Homo sapiens: one gene and its partners. The protein of the gene in region 3 interacts with the protein of the main gene of each other region in a pairwise test. Each region holds a gene or a part of one and is shown on either strand. Other genes may lie near its edges.

Evidence for each region. The genes of interacting proteins can lie anywhere in the genome.
Region 1: the proteins of KASH5 (region 3) and TSHZ3 interact in binary tests that used the Homo sapiens proteins (3 or more experiments, as listed by UniProt).
Region 2: the proteins of KASH5 (region 3) and EFNA5 interact in binary tests that used the Homo sapiens proteins (3 or more experiments, as listed by UniProt).

Annotation. Positions count from the first base shown.
Region 1 is NC_000019.10:31,276,413-31,283,709, reverse strand, and holds part of TSHZ3 (teashirt homolog 3), read left to right. Parts: intron 1-3,957; coding exon 3,958-7,163; 3' UTR 7,164-7,297. UniProt on the Homo sapiens protein: Transcriptional regulator involved in developmental processes. Functions in association with APBB1, SET and HDAC factors as a transcriptional repressor, that inhibits the expression of CASP4.
Region 2 is NC_000005.10:107,667,914-107,675,832, forward strand, and holds the start of EFNA5 (ephrin-A5 isoform 1 precursor), read right to left. Parts: upstream 3,025-7,919; 5' UTR 2,701-3,024; coding exon 2,576-2,700; intron 1-2,575. UniProt on the Homo sapiens protein: Cell surface GPI-bound ligand for Eph receptors, a family of receptor tyrosine kinases which are crucial for migration, repulsion and adhesion during neuronal, vascular and epithelial development.
Region 3 is NC_000019.10:49,383,439-49,391,282, forward strand, and holds the start of KASH5 (protein KASH5), read left to right. Parts: upstream 1-4,810; 5' UTR 4,811-4,889; exon of another isoform or gene 4,890-6,900; intron 6,901-7,139; exon of another isoform or gene 7,140-7,208; intron 7,209-7,350; 5' UTR 7,351-7,445; coding exon 7,446-7,488; intron 7,489-7,844. UniProt on the Homo sapiens protein: As a component of the LINC (LInker of Nucleoskeleton and Cytoskeleton) complex, involved in the connection between the nuclear lamina and the cytoskeleton.

The DNA.
Region 1 (7,297 bases), about 18 Mb from region 3:
AGATTAAGCGACTTTACAGCTCGGCTCTTTACCTTCTCTGAAAGGCCATAAAATGATAGACATGTAGCCGAGGAAGGACGTTACAAATATTACCCAAGTGCCCCGTATCATTCAAAGAAGGAAATAGAGGCCTAGAGAAACAAAACTCTGCACTGCACAGTGTGCGGCAACCTGCCTGGTGCCTGTGGCAGCTTGATGCGTATTTGTGGAGTGCCTTTCATCCCTTAGTTCCCTCATTCCACTGGGTCCATTTCCATTTTCTAGAACATTTTTAAAGTTCAGTAATCAAGAGTATAAATATTCTCAGAGTAGTGAAATTATTGCAAAGCATGGTGGAAGATGGGAATTTTCCCTTTATTTTTATGTATTTATTTTTGGAGATAGGATTTTGCTTTGTTGCCCAGGCTAGAGTGCAGTGGTGGGTCATGGCTCACTTGCACCCTCCACCTCCGGGTTCAAGTGATTCGCCTGCCTCAGCCTCTGGAGTAACTGGGACTGCAGGCATGTGCCACCATGTCTGGCTAATTTTTTTGTATTTTAGTAGAGATGGGGTTTTACCATGTTGCCGAAGGTGGTCTCAAACTCCTGAGCTCAGGCAGTCTGCCTGCCTTGGCCTCCCAAAGTGCTGGGATTACAGGAATGAGCCACTGCGCCCAGCCCTTCCCTTTATTTTAATGTGGAGGGGAGAACCAGTGGGTAAAAGTCTTAGGCTCCACCTAAGGAAATACTTCTCACCTTCAGATCGGAAAAGAAAATGGTCATTTGAACAGGGAGTGAGGCCCACGTCACAGCCACGAGGGTGTGCGCTTGAAAGAACCCTCAGAAACCATGACATGGTCAGGAGTGGGGTGTGCGGTGAGGCCAGGTCTCTCCAGGACCCAGTTCTGCTTGGCACCAGAGCCTTTTAATTCTCCTCTGAGTTGGATCTTGTTCCACCAGGGAGGTTGAGAGGTTGGCCTTTTCTTTCCATATTAATTTCCTCCTCAGTCATCAGACTGATGACATTCTGACCCTGCTGTGTAGTTTACAAAGCATATCAGAGCGTGTTGTGGGCCAGCCCAGGAGAGGAGCTGGTCATATCATTCATGGTGCATGTGTTGGGGAGGGGTGCTCCGGACGGCCTGGGCTGGTTTGGTGCTTGTGCAGTGGGGGTGGGGAAGGCTCTGGCCATGGGGAGATGCATTGCCCCTGGGTGGAATGTGGGCTGGCAGAGCCCCTGGGTTTCCCTCTCACCTGGTGGCCTTCACCCACAGAGGACTCTTTCATGTCCACTATTGGCTCTGCTGCTTCTGGCTGCTGGTGTCCTCTCGTAGTGGCTGCTGTGGGGCCATTTCTCTCTCAGACTTAATTTCATGGGAGCCACTGTAATAGGAGCAAAATCCCCAGGGTGTGGGGTTTGTATTGCAGACTGTGGCTCCAAGAGGCATCTCCAGGACAGAAGGGGCTTTGATATCTTCACCCATCTACACAGGCCTGGGCATTTCCTTGAGTCTCAGTGGGAGGGACACCAGCCATGGGATTTCCTCCTCTTTCCCCGTTTACAATAAAACCGTACTATGGAAACATCATATATGCATGCACCCGGTGCACTTCTGCAGACAGTGGGCTGTGTCTAGCTAAACCCAGCCTACTCTGCTCCAGCTGTTCCCCGAGAGGATTATAAGAGAGGTTGCAGACCCACCTGGATGCTCTGACCTCAGTCATACTGTGTGCCCCAGCTAGGGTAACAAGCCATCCTTCAGTTTGCATAAGACTGAGTAAATTCCCAGGATGCAAGACATTCAGTGCTGAAACCAGGACAGCTCCAGGCAAATTGGGACACTTGGTTATTCTACCTCGGCTGTTCTTCCTCCAGGCCTGCCACTCCATTGGAGTTTTGAGTCCAGATTTCTAGAATGTGCTGCATGCCGAGGAAGTCTGTCGGGGGGCAGGTGAGGGAGAGTGAGATGTCTTCTTTTCTTTTTCTTTTCCTATTCTTTTCCAACACATGCATTCACAGTCTTCACTGTGGCTAGCACAGGAGCCTCCATTGGCCAGCGCCGTATTTCCCTAAGCATTTGGTCTTGGCCCTAGGAACAGAGCTTTTGCTGTCTTTATTTGTCATCTCAAAGTGCATGGCCTTAAACTTGAGGTTCCCCACAGCACTTCACACTCAGCTGACTGCAGCAGGGCACTCTCTTCTGGTCATTTGTAAAGAACATCCATGGCTCCTGGACAAGACTCTTGCTTAGTAGTTGGCAAATGAGCAGAAGTATCCCCCTCCCTGCAGCTGATGTGTGTACCTGGGGCAGTTCCCATCCAAGTTCACATTACATCAGTGTTGGGATTCCATGTGTCTTGGCTTAGGAATCTTGGCACTCAAAGTAGGGGGCTTAGGAGCAAAAGAATCACACCTGTCCTGGAAGGAATGAGGGGGGCCTATCTGCTTGACTTCAAGGGACTCATTTCACTGTTTTTGTTTGTTTGTTTGTTTATTGTTGTTGTTGGTTTTCTGATGTGAAATGGAACAGGGGCAAATCTTTAAAGCTGGTGGAGTCAATTCCACAAACAAAACTTCCCTTCCTTTCTTAAGAGCTTTTTGTAGAAATCAGCCTTGCAATTAGCACTGCAACGTTCCAACCACTTAACACACTTCCCCACTGGCCTTTTGAAGCAAACAAGTATTTAGAAGCTGACAGGACAAAGTCACTTTATTTCTCCTTTTCCTTTACCTTGAAATTGTTCCTAGCCACAGGGCTGGCCACTCCTCACTGTCCAAAAAACTACCCTGATGCAGTATGCAGTGGCAGATCAGTTTAGTAAGGAATAACCCAAGTCACCGAATGCAAGAGAATGAAAACAAAAACAAAAACAAAAAAAACACCCTGTTGCATTAACGCAAGTATTCTCTGGGCTCTGTGTCTCTGGACGTGCATCTTCCAGAACCTGCAGGCGCGTGGCCTGCCCTCCACCTGCGTGGGAATGCATGCTGGATTTACATCCCAGTTACATCGCTTCCAGAAAGACAGGATCTCTGTTGGATGCCCATGAAGCTTATACTGAGTAAATATTGACAAAGTAGTCTAAAGAGCAAACACTTTGACATTTGTAAGGTCCACTGGAAGGTCTTGTATATATTTATACATCAGGAATGAGCACCGCATACCAATTTTCCTGAACTTGTTGTGACATAATTCTGCATGGAGAGTGTGTGTGCACAGGTGGCTGAGAACGGCTGAGTGTTCACATGGGGGACAGGGCTGGGGGCTGGGTGGTAGCTGGTCAGGGTATTTCCTCTCAACTGGAACGAACCCACACCTATCCCTGCCAGGAAACCTACCTCTAAGCTTTTCTGAGACCTGCTTTTCCAGAAGGAAGAAAGAAAAAAAAAAAGCCACAAAATCTTGTTTTTCCCTTATTACAATGGACGTACTTTTCTTTTTACTTGGTAAAAATTTTATTGATGTTTTTATACTTTATATTTATTAAAGATTGAGCCTCAAAAATGTAATGAGTAAAAAATGCTTGCTTAATTTAAATTGTGAATCTGTCTGTTAAGAAATGCATTAGGGGTAGGAGAAGCATAAGACATATTAATTGACAGACAGGAACTGCTGTCTCTGAGGTTGATACAAGTAATTTATTACTTTAGAAATGAATGCCACCTCCAGAATGTGCTTCATTAATTTCAAATTTAGTTTTAATTTCAAGCTGTTGCCCCTTGAGAAGAATAAGGTGGCAAATTATGTTTGAAGAGCAGATTTTTTTTTTTTTTTGCTCCAAAGAAACACCACATTTTAACTGTTTAATTTTACAAATACATGTACCCATCTGGGTTGCTGTGTTTTCCTGAGAGCCCAGAACATATTCTAGGTAAGATCAACAAGTACTAATGCTTTTTTTTTTCTTTCTCTCCTTCTCCCTGTCTCTCTTCATTCCATCCTACCTGTCTCTCTTTCCCACCTGTTATCATGGCAGCCTATGTTTCCGAAGAGTTAAAGGCTGCTGCCCTGGTGGACGAAGGTTTAGACCCAGAGGAGCATACGGCAGATGGAGAGCCCTCGGCCAAGTACATGTGCCCGGAGAAGGAGCTCGCCAGGGCCTGCCCCAGCTACCAGAACTCCCCGGCCGCCGAGTTTTCCTGCCATGAAATGGACAGCGAGTCACACATCAGTGAGACCAGTGACCGAATGGCTGACTTTGAAAGCGGCTCCATCAAGAACGAAGAGGAGACCAAGGAGGTCACGGTCCCACTGGAAGACACGACTGTGTCGGATAGCCTGGAGCAGATGAAGGCCGTGTACAACAACTTCCTCTCCAACTCCTACTGGTCCAACCTCAACCTCAACCTGCACCAGCCCTCCTCGGAGAAGAACAACGGCAGCAGCAGCAGCAGCAGTAGCAGCAGCAGCAGCTGTGGCAGCGGGAGCTTCGACTGGCACCAGAGCGCCATGGCTAAGACGCTGCAGCAGGTGTCACAGAGCCGCATGCTCCCGGAGCCCAGCCTCTTCAGCACCGTGCAGCTGTACCGGCAGAGCAGCAAGCTCTATGGCTCCATCTTCACGGGGGCCAGCAAGTTCCGCTGTAAGGACTGCAGCGCTGCCTACGACACCCTGGTGGAGTTGACGGTGCACATGAACGAGACGGGGCATTACCGCGACGACAACCATGAGACCGATAACAACAACCCCAAGCGCTGGTCCAAGCCTCGCAAACGCTCCTTGCTGGAAATGGAAGGGAAGGAAGACGCCCAGAAGGTGCTGAAGTGCATGTACTGTGGCCACTCCTTTGAGTCCCTGCAGGATTTGAGTGTCCATATGATCAAAACAAAACACTACCAAAAAGTGCCTCTGAAGGAACCCGTCACTCCTGTCGCCGCCAAAATCATCCCTGCCACTCGGAAGAAAGCTTCCCTGGAGCTGGAGCTCCCCAGCTCCCCAGATTCCACAGGTGGAACCCCCAAAGCCACCATCTCAGACACCAACGATGCACTTCAGAAGAACTCCAACCCTTACATCACGCCAAATAATCGGTACGGCCACCAGAATGGGGCCAGCTATGCATGGCACTTTGAGGCCCGGAAGTCGCAGATCCTGAAGTGCATGGAGTGTGGGAGCTCGCATGACACCCTGCAGGAGCTCACTGCCCACATGATGGTCACTGGCCACTTCATCAAGGTCACCAACTCTGCTATGAAAAAGGGGAAGCCCATTGTGGAGACGCCTGTCACACCTACCATCACAACCCTGCTGGATGAGAAGGTCCAGTCCGTGCCCCTGGCAGCCACCACCTTCACGTCCCCCTCCAATACACCTGCCAGCATCTCCCCAAAACTGAATGTGGAGGTCAAGAAGGAAGTCGACAAGGAGAAAGCGGTCACTGACGAGAAACCTAAGCAAAAAGACAAGCCTGGCGAAGAAGAGGAGAAGTGTGACATCTCTTCCAAATACCATTACTTGACTGAAAATGACTTAGAAGAGAGTCCCAAGGGGGGGCTTGATATCCTCAAATCCTTGGAAAACACAGTGACATCCGCAATCAACAAGGCCCAGAACGGCACTCCTAGCTGGGGGGGCTATCCCAGCATCCATGCCGCCTACCAACTTCCCAACATGATGAAGTTGTCCCTGGGCTCGTCGGGGAAGAGCACGCCCCTGAAACCCATGTTTGGCAACAGTGAGATTGTCTCCCCGACGAAAAACCAGACCCTGGTCTCTCCACCCAGCAGCCAGACGTCCCCCATGCCCAAGACAAACTTTCATGCCATGGAGGAGCTGGTGAAAAAGGTCACTGAGAAAGTTGCCAAAGTGGAGGAGAAGATGAAGGAGCCGGATGGGAAGCTTTCCCCGCCCAAGCGGGCCACTCCCTCCCCATGTAGCAGCGAAGTCGGGGAACCCATCAAGATGGAGGCATCCAGCGATGGGGGCTTCCGCAGCCAGGAGAACAGCCCCAGCCCCCCGCGGGATGGGTGCAAGGATGGGAGCCCCCTCGCTGAGCCGGTGGAGAATGGCAAGGAGCTGGTGAAGCCCCTAGCCAGCAGTTTGAGTGGCAGCACGGCCATCATCACCGACCACCCGCCTGAACAGCCTTTTGTTAACCCTTTGAGCGCCCTGCAGTCAGTCATGAACATTCACCTGGGCAAGGCCGCCAAGCCCTCCCTGCCTGCCCTGGACCCCATGAGCATGCTTTTCAAGATGAGCAACAGCCTGGCGGAGAAGGCTGCTGTGGCCACCCCGCCGCCCCTGCAGTCCAAGAAGGCAGACCACCTCGACCGCTATTTCTACCACGTCAACAACGACCAGCCCATAGACTTGACAAAAGGGAAGAGTGACAAAGGCTGCTCCTTGGGTTCAGTGCTTCTGTCACCCACGTCCACAGCCCCGGCAACCTCCTCATCCACGGTGACAACGGCAAAGACATCTGCCGTCGTATCATTCATGTCAAACTCGCCGCTACGCGAGAATGCCTTGTCAGATATATCCGATATGCTGAAGAACTTGACAGAGAGCCACACGTCAAAATCCTCCACTCCTTCCAGCATCTCCGAGAAGTCTGACATTGACGGGGCCACTCTGGAGGAGGCTGAGGAGTCGACGCCCGCCCAGAAGAGGAAGGGCCGCCAGTCAAACTGGAACCCCCAGCACCTCCTGATCCTCCAGGCCCAGTTTGCCGCCAGCCTCCGGCAGACCTCAGAAGGGAAGTACATCATGTCAGACCTGAGCCCCCAGGAGCGGATGCATATCTCCAGGTTCACCGGGCTGTCCATGACCACCATCAGCCACTGGCTGGCCAACGTGAAATACCAGCTTCGAAGGACAGGTGGAACAAAGTTCCTCAAAAACTTGGACACTGGCCACCCCGTCTTCTTTTGTAACGATTGTGCGTCCCAAATCAGGACTCCTTCCACGTACATCAGTCACCTAGAGTCACACTTAGGCTTCCGGCTACGGGACTTATCCAAACTGTCCACCGAACAGATTAACAGTCAGATAGCACAAACCAAGTCACCGTCAGAAAAAATGGTGACGTCCTCCCCCGAGGAAGACCTGGGGACTTCCTATCAGTGCAAACTTTGCAATCGGACCTTTGCCAGCAAGCACGCTGTTAAACTTCACCTTAGCAAAACACACGGGAAATCTCCGGAAGACCACCTTCTGTATGTCTCTGAGTTAGAGAAGCAGTAGCATTTGCTTTTGATAGAAAGGACTGCAGTTTGCTTTGAGGGAAACTGTGGAAGGCACCTTCAGGCCCCCTCTGACTTGTTGTTCTTGGCACATGTTCTTATTTTAACTGCAGAGAATCACTCTGGGCTGGACTG
Region 2 (7,919 bases), on a different chromosome or scaffold from region 3:
AAAACTGTTAGTTTTTATTTTTAAAATACTTATTTGGCATGTGGCCTCTTATATCCAAGTTGACTTTTCTTAATGCATCAAAAGAGCAACATCTTATTCAACACTTCAGAGATAAAACTGCCTACTTTTAAAATATTGTTTTTAAAGTAAGTTTTTAACTGTGATAACATACCAAGATAAATGTGTCCATAAATTCCTAAGAATAATAAGTGTTAGGGCTGTATCTCTTGGGGTTAAGAGGGGTACATCATTCTTTCTTTTGGCCATTATCAAACTGATAATGATCAAATAGAAAGGTAATTCTACAAACCTGAAGTTAGAATACCGATTTAGAAATACTCTTGGTATTTTAAAATTCTGCAGATTAACTTTGTCTGGGCAGGTTCAAAGCCTCCATGGCATCCTGAGCAGAAGAGTTTTCTGCAGGCAGGGCAGATCTATTAAAAAACATGACCTGTGACAAAAATCAATGTGCTAATCTCAAACCAAACAACAGTATCAAAAGCACAAAACAGAGATAACCTAAGATAAAATGTCCTCAAACTAACTCAGACTAGCTTGACAGGTTAAGAAGGGGGGTTAAAGTAGGGGTGTTGCTGGTTCTTTCCGTTTTAACCCAGGAAGACTGGAACACCCAAGTATCCAAATAAATGAATGCCATGAGAAAAAGATCACAATGTGGAGCTTGGTGTGGGAAAGAAAAGACAACCGAGAGCAAGATATCCCAAATTCAAAGAAACTATTTCAGTGTTGCTTTATTTAATAAGGTGCTAAAGTTCAGAGATACAAATTTCTGCTTCGTATATGCTGCCTAATAAAGCACAAACGGGGAAAAAAAACTAACCAACATAATGAGACTGGCTTTTAACACCATCACAACTGGAAAGCTTGCTCTATTTGTCTTGTCAGCTTTAATAAAAGGCATCTCTCCTCTGGCAGGATGGCTTCTTTTTCTCTTTTCCTAATAGTGGTAAGTGGCATGTCAAAGAAGAAATCGCTTCCCATTCCACCACCCACCTCCAGGAGACTCTTGTTTTTTGAACCAAACTTTCAGGAATATCTCCACTCCTGTTCAGCGGTTCATTTAGGACTTGGGCGGCTACCTGAGTAAGACTATCTTGGACTAGCGGGATAGGGGGAACTCCCTCCTGGTTCTGTAACCGGCGGACTGCTTGTGGGGAAATCTTCCCATCTTCATCTGCGCTGACATTATTCAAGCAGGGAATCCCTCTCTTGCCTGCATGCTGAGGGGAGGCTGGAGGCAGGCGGAGAGGGCCCGCAGGAGATAGAAAAAACTGGAGGCGCCCACCGATACCCTCTCTCCTGGAGCCCGGGGCGCGCACCAACTCTTAGGCTAACCCCTCGGCCTCCCGCCTCTCTCTTCCCAACTTCCACTCCAGCCCAGTGAAAAACCTGTGACTTTAGATGCAATCGGTACTATTAATAAATAGCACCTAGGAGGGCACCGAGACCGGCACACAGCTGGAAGCTAGCCTCTGTCCCAGAGAAAGCAGTGCGGTATGGGCCTAGCGGGGCCGACTTCTGTGCACAGGCCGGGAAGCAATAAAGGTTCGGAACTGCTCCAGACCCGGAGGACCCCGCCGGGCACTCTGGATAACCTCCCCACTCCACTTCCAGGGTCCGAAAACACGGGACGTCTGCGACTGGCCGGTGTCCAGCACGCGCACTAGGACCGCCCCCGGCGCCCACCTCTAGTCTCCCGCATACCCGGCGGGCTTCGGGACGCCTACAAATCGGTTCCAGGTAATCGCGCGCGTTCCTCCGGCAGCACATCGCCAGGCCGCGGGCGAAGGGCTCCCACCTCCTGGCTCGGCCAACTCTGGCAGCTTGTTCTGCACACATGACGTAACCCGGCATTAGATCAAACTTTCTGGCACCTTGAACCCACTGGGGTGGGTGGAGGGATGGAGAAGATGGGAGAATCCTCTCCACTGCCAGGCGCGCCGGGCCCAGACTGACTCAGGGGCCGAATGATTTCCTCGCAGTTGAAGAGGAAAATAAAAACCTAAAGCTTCCGCTTCCCAGCCCCCCTCACTTCCCCCAGCCCGTGCGCTCTCTCTGCGCGCACCGGGAAAAGAGAAGGGAAAATTAAAATTAAAAAAAAAAAAAAAAAAAAAAAAACTTTGGGGGATGTTTGGCGGGTTCTCTCCGCAGTCCCTGCGGACCCACGCTCCAGGAAGGAGCTCCCGGCTGCGCACACTGGGGGCTCCCCGCGCCGGGAACCGGATGCCAGCCAGATGCCGGGGCTGGGAAGCAGAGAAGTCCCTACTCCCCGGCTCCCGCCCTTTTCCGAGTCTCCCGGCGCCCCGCAGAAGCAGTTGGTCTAGGCAGCCCCGGGGACTCCCAGGGGTACCTGGCCTTTCCGCGGCGGCTTAACAAAGAGGGGCGCGACGCGAGCGCTTCCCGCCGACGCCTCAAGCCATCAGCGCCCGGGCGACGCAGGCTCCGAGGGTGCGCGCCGCCAGCGGTTGGTGCGCGCCGATCCCCGCCGCCGCTCCTTCCGCAGGGCCCCGAGGCCCGGGTAGCCCTGGCTCTCCGCCTGTTATCGGCTTACCTGGGGTTGCTGCTGTTCCAGTAGACAGCGTAGCGGTCGGCGACGGCCTTGGAGCCCGGGTCCTGGCTGAACACACACATCCAGAGCACCAGAAACACCAGCGTCAACATCTCCACGTGCAACATCACGCCTGGCCAGCGGCGGAGCCCCCGACGCGCCACTCCGGGGAGAGAGCGGGGATCCGGAGGGAGGGAGGCAGGCAAAGGGACAGAGAGAGAGCGGGCGCCAAATAAATATGAATAAATAAAAATGAAAGTGGGCGAGAAAGGAAAGAGGCGCCCACCAAGCTGGGGAGGGGTAGGAGAGCGAGAAGAAAAGAAGGCGGTGGGATGGGGGGTGATAAAGACAAACTCGCACCCCCACTGGAGGGTTCAGGAGGAAAAAGGAATCACAAGATGGAGAGAAGCGTGCGTGTGTGTGGTGGCGGCGGCGAGGGCGGGGGAAGAGGTGCCAAGCTGTGTCTCGGGCGGCGGCGGCAGGCCGGTCACCCCGGGAGAGGGAGGTGCGCGCCGGGCCGGGCGGCTGCAGCGCGGGTCGGGGCAGGCGGCGGCGCGCGCTGCACAGTCACCGGGAGTTGCGCGCCGCAGCCGCGGGGAGACATACACCGGCCCGCCGGGCCCGGCTCAGCGTCGGCGCAGCAGGCTACGCACGGCTCCGCCACCGCCCGGGGCCCTCGCACTGCGCCACGCTTCGCTCCAAGTTACTTTGGCGGCCGGTGGGAAACTGCAGGAGAAGGGCGACGTGCTGATAGAGGGCTTCGCGCTTGTGGTCCCGGGAGTCTGAGAACCCCTTTCCTCAGCCTCCTCTGTGCCTTAGCGGGGCGACCCCCAGAAATCTCAGAGGAGTCGTAAGTGCTGCGGTACCGGGCGGTGCGCCGAGAAGGGTGGGGATCCGGAGCCGCAACCCAGCCTTGTCGGTGTCCTGGAACTGGTTAAGCGGCAGCTGCGCCGGCTTTCGAAGCGGTCTTGCCTCGAAAACCTCAAAGAAAAGTTTGGCTCTTCGCGTCTTCCGGCAGGTCCCCCAGCAGAGTCGGAACGCGGCGGTAGCGGAAGAGGGCACCCCGGGGGCTGGCCGAGCCTCGGGGATTTCTCGCGCGTGCTTTCCTTGGCTGGGTGTGGGTGCACCACAGTGAATGAAGAGCAGAGGTTAAGACCAGCCGGCCTGGCAGAGCTGGGATTCCTAAACCTGCAAGACGACGCCAACCCAACTGTTCGGCTGGAGAGCGGGAGGGGAAACAATCACTTTCAAATGGATCCCTCCAACTCCTGGATGGGCCGATGTCAGTCTCCGATCGCCTTCCGAGAGGGAGACTGAGCCCCCACACGCGGTGCCAAGAGCCCGGGGTGAGCTCTCAGAAGTGTCCCTGCGACTCCAGCGGGTCCAAGCCTAGCAACTTGTAGAGATGCATCAATCAGTTTGAAATGGGAAAAGAGGAAAAAAAAAAAGCGCACGAGCGAGTGGCACCTCCCCGATGACTACATCAGAAAACCTTCCCGATCCTCCCGCAGCTGCTCCTCTTTCCCTCCTTAGGCACAGCAGCAACAGAGGTGAAAACCACAAACCGAATCCTAAAACCCCTACCCAGGCGGGAAAATAAATAAACTTGAGTGCAGCAGCAGCAGCACGAGCAGCCCAGGAGGAATTGAAACGACTGGCAAGAAGTGGAAAGGGTTTTGTAAAAGTCAGTTTTGCAAAAGAGGGGGAAAAAAAGAGAGCGAGAGAAAAAATGCTTTATGGGAAAAAAAATCTCCTCGGGCACGCCCCCTCGTTAATGACTTGCGTGGAAAGCCGACAGCGGCGGCGACCCAGTGGCAGCAGCCTCAGCAGAGCGCGAGGCCGCACGCGTGAACGTGGACGTGGGCGGGGGGATGGGGCTCCGCCCGGGCGTGTTGCGCGGGACGCGGGACGGGCGGGCGGCGCGAGCGCGGGTGTGAGCTCCGGACGAAGCAGGGGGAGGTGCCGCCAGCCCGCGCCCAGCCAGCGCTGCTGCCGCTGCGGCCCGGGTCATGTGGACTGTCTTTTTTTTTTTTTTTTTTTTTTTCCTCCTTCCAAGCAGTTTACTTGGGAAGGGTGGGAGCGCGGTGGGGGGATAGCTGGAGCAACCAGTCAGGGAACGGCCTACTGTTTGCTTACAGATTGGGGGTTTTTCCTCTCTCTTTACTCCAACCGGATTGGTTTGCTCCACGAGAAAGAGGCGTTTTCCTAATCTCCCTTCCCCACGCCTCCTACCCCCTCCCCCGCCCCACCTTCTAGAAACCTGACTAATTGAATTACTGGGAGTGCCGAGGCGCCCTCTCCTGCGCCGGAGCCCGGCAGCCACGTGTAACCCTTTGGGTGCTGAATTCCGTCTGGGCTAAGGAATGATTTGACATCTTTTTACCTGGGAGTAGGGTCTTTCGATTTTAAAGGAACCTGTGCCCACCCTTTGGCTGGAGAGCCGGCATCTGTCTCTGGTGCCCCGCAGGTGACGGATGGGCTGGAACGGAGCCTCAGGGAGTGCGCGTTCCTGTCCATTCCACCCGCTCTCCACGCCGCACGCTGCCTGGCGCTGGGTTATCTGGAAGTCTGAGCACCCCTCCTGTGCCTTTCAGCCCTCCTCTTCCCACTTGGGATTTAAAGATTCTTGGGCAGGAAGCAAGTTTTCTTTAAAGTGATGCTCTGAAAACACGTTTTTAAAAATCAGGCAAATCACAGTTTAAAGTGATTACAATTCAGCGCGAACCTTCCACAGAGAGGAAATGAATGCGGCAGACGAGCCCTTCAGAAATAACCTCACACCTCTTCCATTTCAACCTTGAGGGTGATTTGCTGCCCACTCCCCAAAGAATAAACGCCTTTATCGAACCCGGTGCGGAAAGAAATGAGGGCCGGGGGCGGGGGCTGTGGGAAGAAAAGCAGTTCCTTTATTGTTGGAAAAGGCCCCTCGGTCCTGGACTTCAAGGGCAGGTTGCAAGCCTGGTCTTCAGCCGCCACTGAAGAGCGATCTCCTGGCAGCGAGACTGTCCCAGCGCCTCGGGACGCGTCCCCACTGTCGTCCAGCGCCCAGGAAGTGAGCCCGACGCCTGCTCTGCGGGGCCACAGGCCCCCGAGACCCGCCCTTAAGGGGTCCGCGGGCTCGGGAGCAGCGGTATTTTTTCTCATGTTCCCTAGGGAGTTTTCTGCCTTAGTGGGAAGGGCAGATCCCCAGGAGAAAAAAGGCAGTTTACTTTTGCTCCCACACCTGCCTGCACTCCTTTTTACTTATTAGCCCAATAAAATCAAATCTCACGTTCACCCTCCTGCGCTTTCCAGTCCTCAGACGGGATTTCCAGGCGCTTCAGAGCTGTTTAGAAGCGTCCAGACGCCCTCCAGTGGTGGGCCTGCAATCCGCACCCAGCAGGGGCATTGCCTGCCGCTCAGGCCGGGTTGAATTTGATGGGAAATCTAGGGCTATGACCAATAAAGACTCGAGAGGAAAAGAAACAGTTCATAGGGGCACGGAGGTACCTGGATGTTATGGGCTCTTGGCTAAAAGTTAAGTCGTTTTTCAATTACAGTAATATTTCCTATCTGAAAAGATCCTGAAATCGTCCTAGGAAAGTAACTTATATTTTGTGACTAGATACAAATTGCAATCTGTACAATAATGGACTTTACCACAAACCAACCATCTGCCTAATTATTAAAAATTGAAATTCAGAATGTCGACACAAATGCTCCTCCATCATCTGTATGTTTCACAAAGTTCCAGCAGTGAGAAAGAAGTGGGGAAAGAAGTGAGAGAACCAATGGATAAGCTTTTATTTTTCAAATCAAATTTTCAGTTAAAATGTTATTTGCTTTTTTCCCTGGTCTGTAATCTTGCTGATGTTCAAGTTCTTGGCCCATTTTAGGGTGTGTGTTTTTTCTGTTGCAGGAAAGATGGATTTGTTTCCTTAGCTTTTCTTATAGTGGCTCTAATAGGTGCTCATATGACAGAGACAGTTTTGCAGGAAATATTCTGGACCCTTTTAAGAGATATGTGTATCTTTAAAAAGAAAATTCACGACTCCTGTCTAGGGTAAAATGCTGATCCTCACTGAAGAGTCTTTTTAGTCAGGGAACTATCAGGTAACAGGGAGCTAGCAAGCTGGCTTCCTGTGGCATCAAAGCTGAAAAAAAGGTGAAGAAAAAGAAATGGTATCCACTCATTTCCCGTTTGAAACACATACAATAACCAAATGGGAAAATTCAATTATATCACAAAAATATGGATGTCCTTATATTTAAATATCTCTACTATTTAAAGTTTGAATAGTCCCATATTAAACAGAAAAAAAAGTATACATTGTCCTCTTCCATAAAGTGATTCATAAGATTGGAATAAGATGTTGAAATTCGCGGCTGTTCATAACATAACTCAAATGTCTATGTGAAACAATTCATAAACCTAAATCAAATGACTCTGGGATTATGTGCCTAAGTAATTATTGGTATGGAAGTTACTAGTCAGCAGGATGATAGATACAGTAAGTCCTTAATGTCAGGGATATGTTCTTGGAAATTGTGACTTTAAGCGAAGTGGCATATATAAGGAAAACAATTTCACCATAGGCTACTTGATACAAACAAGAGTTAAATTCCTATGCATATCTCCGGTCACAAAAACATCACCAAACTTCCAGATAAAGACCAAAACACTTCTAATGTTAAACATTGAAATAAATGTGAGCTAGACATACATTTGAGAAAGATTAATAAAAACAAGTAAGATCATGTAACCAATTTTTCCATTTCAGGATTGCAGGTGGCCGGAGTTCAGGGCTCAAGGAGGAAAGTAACCCTGGACAGGACACCCTTCTATCCTGGGGTGCACTCACACTCACACCCACACTCACGCATACTGAGAATATTTAGATATGTGCACAGCTTAGACACAACCTAGCGAGCACAGCTGTGGGTTGTAGGAGGAAACCAGAGTACCCGGAGAAAACCCACGCAGACATGAGGAGAATGTGCAAACTACTCACAGACAGTGGCCATGGCCTGGAATCGATTTTTTTTCTCATCACCATTATGACGAAGTGACGTTCAACCAAACAGCGTTGAGGACCTGCTGTACTTGAACAGAGTTTGAAGAGCTATATTATTAACTGTACACTTACCGTTAGATAATGTGACTTTGTCTCTTCAGGAAAGCATTCATGTGATTTAAATTTATACAAATCAACATTATATAAAATAATTTTATTATAATTCGCCCAGTGTCACAGAAGCAATGACTTTTAAACGACTTTAAATGCCCTTTAGAATGTAAGTATTTTGCCAGGTATAGGAGGAGGTGAACGTATAACAAAAAGAGAACAGCAAGAACCTAAAAACATGG
Region 3 (7,844 bases):
GCTGAGGCACGAGAATCACTTGAACCCAGGAGGCGGAGTTTGCAGTAAGACAAGATTGCGCCACTGCACTCCAGCCTGGGCCACAGAAGGAGACTTTGTCTCAAAAAAAAAAAAAAAAAAAGAAAGAAAAAGAAAAGAAATTAGGGTAAAAGTTACCCCTAGGAGAGTAGGGACTGGAAGGAGCCATGAGGAAGAATCTTGGAGGCAGGTAGTATGTTGTATCTTGATCTCGGTTTAGATAACACAGATGTGTTCAATTTCTGAAAATTCATAAAGCTTATCACTTATGATCTATGGACTGTTCTATATAAATATTACACTTCACTAAGAGTTTTGGTAAAGTCAAAAATCAGCAGTCAGCATAAAACAAAACCCAACTATATGCTGTTACAAGAGACATGCCTTAAATATAAGCACACAAAAAGATGGAAAGTTACAGGATGAAAAAGATACCCTATATAAACACTAACCAAAGAAAGCTGGAGAAATCTCTACATCAAAGTAGCCATTAAGGCAAAAAGCATTGCTAGAAGTAAAAAATGACATTTCAAGGTAATAAAGGGGTCAAGTCACCAGGAGGATATAACCATTCTAAATCTGTATGCATTTAATAATACAGCTTCAACATATATAAAGCAAAAATGACAGAACTGAGAGATGGAAAAATCCACAGTCATTCAGTACAAGAAGCAAACAGTGAAGATATTAAAGATTTGAACAGCATGATTGACAAACTTGACCTGACATAGCTGACCTGCAGGATACACACTCTGTTCTTTTCTTTTTTTTTTCTTTTTTTTTTTTTTTTGAAACAGAGTTTCACTCTTGTTGCCCATGCTGGAGTCCAGTGGCACAATCTCGGCTCATTGCAACCTCTGCCTCCCAGGTTCAAGCAATTCTCCTGCCTCAGCCTCCTGAGTAGCTGGGAAGACAGGCGTGTACCACCATGCCTGACTAATTTTTTTTTATTTTTAGTAGAGATGGGGTTTCACCATGTTGGCCAGGATGGTCTCAAACTCCCAACCTCAGGTGATCCGCCTGCCTCAGCCTCCCAAAGTGCTGGGATTACAGGCGTGAGCCACCACACCTGGCCTTTTTTTTTTCTTTTTTTTTTTTTGAGATGAAGTCTCGCTCTGTCTGGCCCAGGCTGTAGTGCAGTGGCGCGATCTCAGCTCACTGTACCCTCCACCTCCTGGGTTCAAGCAATTCTCCTGCCTCAGCCTCCTGAGTAGCTGGGATTACAGGCACATGCCACCACATCTGGCTAATTTTGTATTTTTAGTATAAACGGGCTTTCACCATGTTGGCCAGGCTGGTCTTGAACTCCTGACCTCAGGTGATCCACCCAACTTGGCCTTCCAAAGTGCTGGGATTACAGGTATGAGCCACCACGCCAAGCTACTCTTTTCAAATACACATGAAGCATTTGCTAAAATAGATGAAATCGTGGACTATAAAGCAAATCTCAACAAATGTCAAAGAAATGAAATCATATAGAGTATGTTTGTATGTTTTCTGACTACAGTGAATTAAGTAGGAAGCAATAATAAAAAGATAGCAGGGGGCCGGGCGCAGTGGCTCACGCCTGTAATCTCAGCACTTTGGGAGGCTGAGGCAGAGGAATCACAAGGTCAAGAGATCGAGATCATCCTGGCCAACATGGTGAAACCCCGTCTCTACTAAAAATACAAAAAAAAAAAAAAAGTTGGCTGTGGTGGTGCGTGCCTGTAGTCCCATCTACTCAGGAGGCTGAGGCAGGAGAATCACTTGAATCCAGGAGGCAGAGGTTGTAGTGAGCCCAGATCACGCCACTGCACCCAACCTGGCGACAAAGCGAGACTCCGTCTCAAAAATAAATAAATAATAAAAAGATAGCAGGGAAGTCATAAAATATTTGGAAAGTAAGCAATATATCTCTAAAAATTATCACTCAGGTCAAATTAGAAAATATTTTGAATTGATAATAATGGAAACGTGGCCAGGCATGGTGGCTCATGCCAATAATCCCAGCACTCTGGGAGGCTGAGGCAGGCAGATCACTTGAGGTCGGGAGTTCGAGACCAGCCTAGCCAACATGGAGAAACCCCCATCTCTACTAAAGATACAAAAATTAGCCAGGTGTGGTGGTGCATGCCTGTAATCCCAGCTACTCGGGAGGCTGAGGCAGGAGAATCATTTGAACCCAGGAGGCAGAGATTGCAGCGAGCCAAGATTGTGCCATTGCACTCCAGCCTGGGTGACAGATCGAGACTCTGTCTCAAAAAATAATAATAATAATAGAAATGTGGCATAACAAATGTGTCAAGTGTAGCTACAGAAGTTTTTAGAAGGCAAATGATGGCTCTAAACGCATGTATTAGAAGAGATCTTTAAAAATCAAATGACCTGGCTGGGCACATGACCTGGCATCAGCACGGTGGCTCACGCCTCTAATCCCAGCACTTTAGGAGGCCAAGGCAGGCGGCTCACCCGAGGTCAGGAGTTCAAGACCAGTCTGGCCAACATGGTGAAACCCCGACTCTACTAAAAATACAAAAAATTAGCCAGGCATGGTGGGGCACGCCTGTAATCCCAGCTACTCAGTAGGTTGAGGCAGGAGAATCGCTTGAACTCGGGAGGCACAGGTTGCAGTGAGCCAAGACCGCACCACTGCACTCCAGCCTGGGTGACAGTGAAACTCCGTCTCAAAAAAAAAATCAATGGCTTAATAACCTAAAAATATCAGTGACCTAAGCATTCACCTCAAGAAGTTGGGGGGAAAAAGCTGGAAAAAGAACAGCAGATCATGCCGGGCGCGGTGGCTCACGCCTGTAATCCCAGCACTTTGGGAGGCCGAGGCGGGCGGATCACGAGGTCAGGAGATCGAGACCATCCTGGCTAACACGGTGAAACCCCGTCTCTACTAAAAATACAAAAAATTAGCCGGGCGTGGTAGCGGGTGCCTGTAGTCCCAGCTACTCGGGAGGCTGAGGCAGGAGAATGGCGTGAACCCGGGAGGCGGAGCTTGCAGTGAGCCGAGATCGCCCCACTGCACTCCAGCCTGGGCGACAGAGCGAGACTCCGTCTCAAAAAAAAAAAACAAAAAAACAAAAAAAAAAACAGCAAGATCAGGGGCTTGAGGGCACATGGCTGTAGTCCCACCTACTCAGGAGGCTGAGGTGGGAGGATTACTTGAGCCCAGGAGGTGGAGGCTGCAGTGAGCTAGGGTCACATTACTGCACTCTATCCTGGGTGAGAACCTGTCTCAGAAAGAGAGGAGGGGGGAGGGGAGGGGAGGAAGGGGAGGGAGGAGGGGAGGCAGTGGACGCGGAGGGGAAGGGAGGGGAAGGGAGGGGAAGGGAGGGGAAGGGAGGGGGAAGGGAGGGGAAGGGAGGGGAGATAAAGGGAGGGGGAGGGGAAGGGAGGTGGGAGGGGAGATGAGGGGAGGAAAGTGGGGGGAGGAGAGGAGCAGAGGGGAAGAGAGGGGGAGGGGAGGGGAAGGTACGGGGGAGGGGAGATGAGGGGAGGGGAGTGGGGGAAGGGGAGGACAGGAGCAGAAGGGAAGGGAGGCGGGAGGGGAGGGGAAGGTACGGGGGAGGGGAGATGAGGGGAGGGGAGTGGGGGAAGGGGAGGAGAGGAGCAGAGGGGAAGGGAGGGGGGAAAAGAGAGATGGCACAAATTATTAATATCCGTCACCACAGATCTTACAGATATTAAAAAGATTGGGCATGGTGGCTCATGCCAGTAACCCCAGCACTTTGGGAGGCCAAGGTAGGAGGATCATTTGAGGGCAGGAGTTCGAGACCAGCCTAACATAAGACCGTGTTTCTCCCCCTCCAAAAAAAGACAATATTATGAACTTTATGCAAATTATTTGAAATTTTAGATAAAATGGAAAAATTCCTTGAAAACCACAACTTACCAAAACCACAACTTACCAGAAATAAAATAGAACATCTGAATAGTTGTATTTTTATAAAAGAAATAGAATTTGTAATTTAAAGTCTTTCCACAAAGAAAACTCTAGGTCCAGATGGCTGGTGACTTCTTCCAAACACATAAAAAATAAATAACATCAATCCTACACTAGCACTTTCAAAGAATAGAAAAAGAGAGAACACTTCTCCACACATTATATCAGCATAGCCTTGTTAACAAAACTCAACAGGGATCTCACAGAAAAGAAAAGAAAAGAAAATATGGCAATACATAAAAAGGACAGGCCAGGCGCTGTGTCTCACGCCTGTAATCCCAGCACTTTGGGAGGCCGAGGCGGGTGGATCGCCTGAGGTTGGGAGTTCGGTACCGGCCTGGCCAACGTGGTGAAACCCCGTCTCTACTAAAAATACAAAAATTAGCCAGGTGTGGTGGCGGGCGCATGTAATCCCAGCTACTCGGGAGGCTGAGGCAGGAGAATTGCTTGAACCCGGGAGGCGGAGGTTGCAGTGAGCTAAAATTGTCCCACTGCACTCCAGCCTGGGCGACAGAGCGAGACTCCATCTCAAAAAAAAAAAAAAAAGAAAGAAATGGGGGACGGACAAGGAGTCTCTCAGTTCAATTCCCCCTTCCTCAGCCCATTTCACCAAAGCCTGAAGCGGAAGAGAAAAACACGAGCCCCAGCATGGCGGGCGCAGCCACCCCCTCCTTCCACCACCAGACAAACTCCGTGGCCACAGCCCACACCGCCAGCGCGCATGCGTGACACGCGTCGGCCGCCGGTTTGCACCTGCGTCTTAAGAGGAGTCCGGGCGGGGAGGGGCGGGGCTCAGACGCTGCGCACGCGCACTCGCGACCCCTCGCCTCCTTTTGCTTTTTCTGGCGGGAAAAGCTCACGCGCACCTCCCCCAACTCAACTGCCGTTCGTCGTTCGTGGATGTCCGTTGTGTCCCGAGACTAGGACGTGGCTCCAGGTGCGCCCTGCCCCGCGGCGAGGTTCCCAGAATGGCCCTTCCCAGCCCCTACCGAAATCCTAGCGAAGCCCCCCCATATTGTGGGAGAGATACCCCTGCGTCAGGGCCCCCCAGATCCTGACCACTTGGGAGGCCGAGGCGGGCGGATCACGAGGTCAGAAGATAGAGACCATCCCGGGGAAGTGAAACCCCGTCTCTACTAAAAATACAAAAAATTAGCCAGGCGTAGTGGCACGCGCCTATAATCCCAGCTACTCAGGAGGCTGGGGCAGGAGAACTGCTTGAACCTGGAAGGCAGAGGTTGCAGTGAGCTGAGATCGCGCCACTGCACTCCAGCCTGGGTGACAAGAGTGAGACTCCGTCTCAAAAAAAAAAAAAAAAATCCTGACCACATCCCCTCAGATATACTGAAAGGAGTCCACCAGGAAATCTTATAGTTGACCCCCGAAATCCTGTCAGAATCGTCTAGAAATTGTCAGACTTCTCCCTCAGAGCCTGCCAGAAACTTTCCCCAAAATCCTATTACTCTCCCCAGATCAGCAGAGCCACCTAGACTCGTGTCAGAGATCCCCAGAAATCCTGGCAGGTCCCCTCCCAAACCCAGTCGGACCTCAGATTCCGTCAGAGAGCACAGAAGTCCATCAAAGACACCCCAGAAACGGAGACCCCGAAATGCACTCAGAGACCCCCGCAGAAATCAAGACCCTCCAAATCCAGCCAGAGACCCCCAGAAATCCAGTCAGACCCCTGCAGAAATCAAGACCCCCAAAATCCAGCCAGAGACCCCCAGAAATCCAGAGACCCCCGCATAAATCAAGACCCCCAAAATCCAGAGACCCCGAATAAATCAAGACCCCCAAAATCCAGTCAGAGAACCCCCAGAAATCCAATCAGACCCCCGCAGAAATCAAGACCCCCGAAATCCAGCCAGAGACCCCTGAAATCCAGTCAGAGACCCCCACAGAAATCAAAATCTCCAAAATCCAGCCAGACACTCCCCAGAAATCCAGTCAGAGACCCCCCCAAAATCCTGTCAGAGCCCTTGAAAGCCCGCCAAGGCCCACACCACCCAGAGCTCCTGCCAGGGCCCCATCCTGCTTCAGTGTCCCCGTCTCAGTCCCGTCAGACCCCCGAGATCAACCAACACCCCCGGGGTCCCTCAGGACTCCATCCCGAACCCACTCCGTGCGCCAGGGCCCAGCCAAGGCCATCGCCCCCCTTTGCACCCTGCAGGGTGTTCCAGACCCTGGAAGGGCCTCTCTTCAAAGACCCGTGTTTCCAGAACGGTGGCAGCGGGCTCACGTGGCTTGGGGAGAGCAGGCACTGGGGGAGCTGGGTGAGGACAGGCGAGCCCAGGCTCGACTGGTGGCCCCAAGGGGCGCCCGTGCCCGCTGTGATGATAGCAGCGCCCAGGTCTCTCTCTAGCCCCCAGAGTGCGGCCACTAAGGTTTTGGGTCGGCCTGGGTGGAATGGAGGCAGGATGGGGCCCCCCAAACTCCTGTCACTGCTGCAGGGACTGCCCAGAGCAGCTGCAAGTGGGGCTGGCAGGGATGAGGAGGAGGTGGCCTGGGCTTGGGGGACCATGTACATCCTGAGTTGGAACCCAGGGGAGCAGCAGGTTTGGGGCCATGATGAGGAGAGACCTAGGGGTTGCCCGACGGAGAGAAAAGGGACAGGAAGAGGCAGGAGCTTCAGAGACTACTCAATGCCACTCTAGCCTGAGGGACTGGAACTTAGTCCGGGGGCATTAGGGAGCCATGGGAGGATCAGGAGCAGGGGCAAGTCAGGATCAAACTCCCATGAGAAGCCAGCCGGCCAAATCCAGGCTGATGTGGCAAGAATGGCAGCTGCCCAGGGCTGTGTGGGAGCCAGACACGGCCCCTCGCTTCCCGGAAGAGGCCACGTGAAGCCGAAGCAGGATGCAGGAGGGCGTCCCAGGCAGAGACCTGGGCATGGGAGCGGTCCGCAGCTCAGAGTGGCTGGAGCATCATGTGCGATTTGGGGTGCTGAGGTGGGCGGTCAGCCATGCAGGGCCTTGGCGTCAGGGCCAGGGTCTCACCCGTACCCAGGATTCAGGGAGCCATGGAAGGGTACTTAGCAGGGGAGGGGCAGGTCAGCTCTGGGGCCCTGTGGGGACAGACTGGAGGACAAGCCTGGGGATAGGAGGCTGGGACAAAGGCCAGGGAAGAGGACCAGGCAGCCTGGACCGGCGGCAAGCCATGTGAAGAAAGGGAGGCAGTGACCTCCCCCACCCACCCACTAGCCCCTTTGATGTCAGCCACCTCGTTCTCCAGCCCACACCTCCAATCCATAAAACAGGTCAGAGCGGAGCTGCTCAGGTCACAGCGGGGGTGACAAACAGGTTGTGAGGACCCAGAGGTCCTGGGGCACAGGTGGGGCTAGGCAGGCCCCGACCCTTGGTGGCTGCTCTGAGGACACCATTTCCTGCTTCTCCTTCCAGGAGTGCTCGGGCCAGCTGGTCCTTTTCCCATCCCTCCCCATGAAGGAGGGAGGCTGGTAGCTTTGCCAGCAGCTGCGCCGCGGCAGGGGTGGCCCATGGACCTGCCCGAGGGCCCGGTGGGTGGCCCCACTGCGGAAAGTAAGTGGCTGGAACCCTATTTGCCCCGGGGAGGGTGAGGAGGGAGCCATGGGTGAATGGGTGCCAGGCTGTGACTCGGGGACTTGGGAGAGGTGGCTGGGGGTGGCTGAGCCTTTGCATGGGTGCAGAGTGGAAGGGAGGGAAGGGACTCTGGTAGATTAAGTGCCTACTCTATGCCCGCCCACCTGTCACTACCCCTTATCTCCTGTGGGGAGGCTGGACTGTGTGAGAGCGCAAGCAGCCGCACCCCTTACTCCATTCAGATCGCGGCCCAGATGGCACTTCTTACTTTATGTAAAGCAGCTGCCCTGTGACACTCTCTCCCCTGCCCCGCTTCATTTCTCTTCACAGTGCTC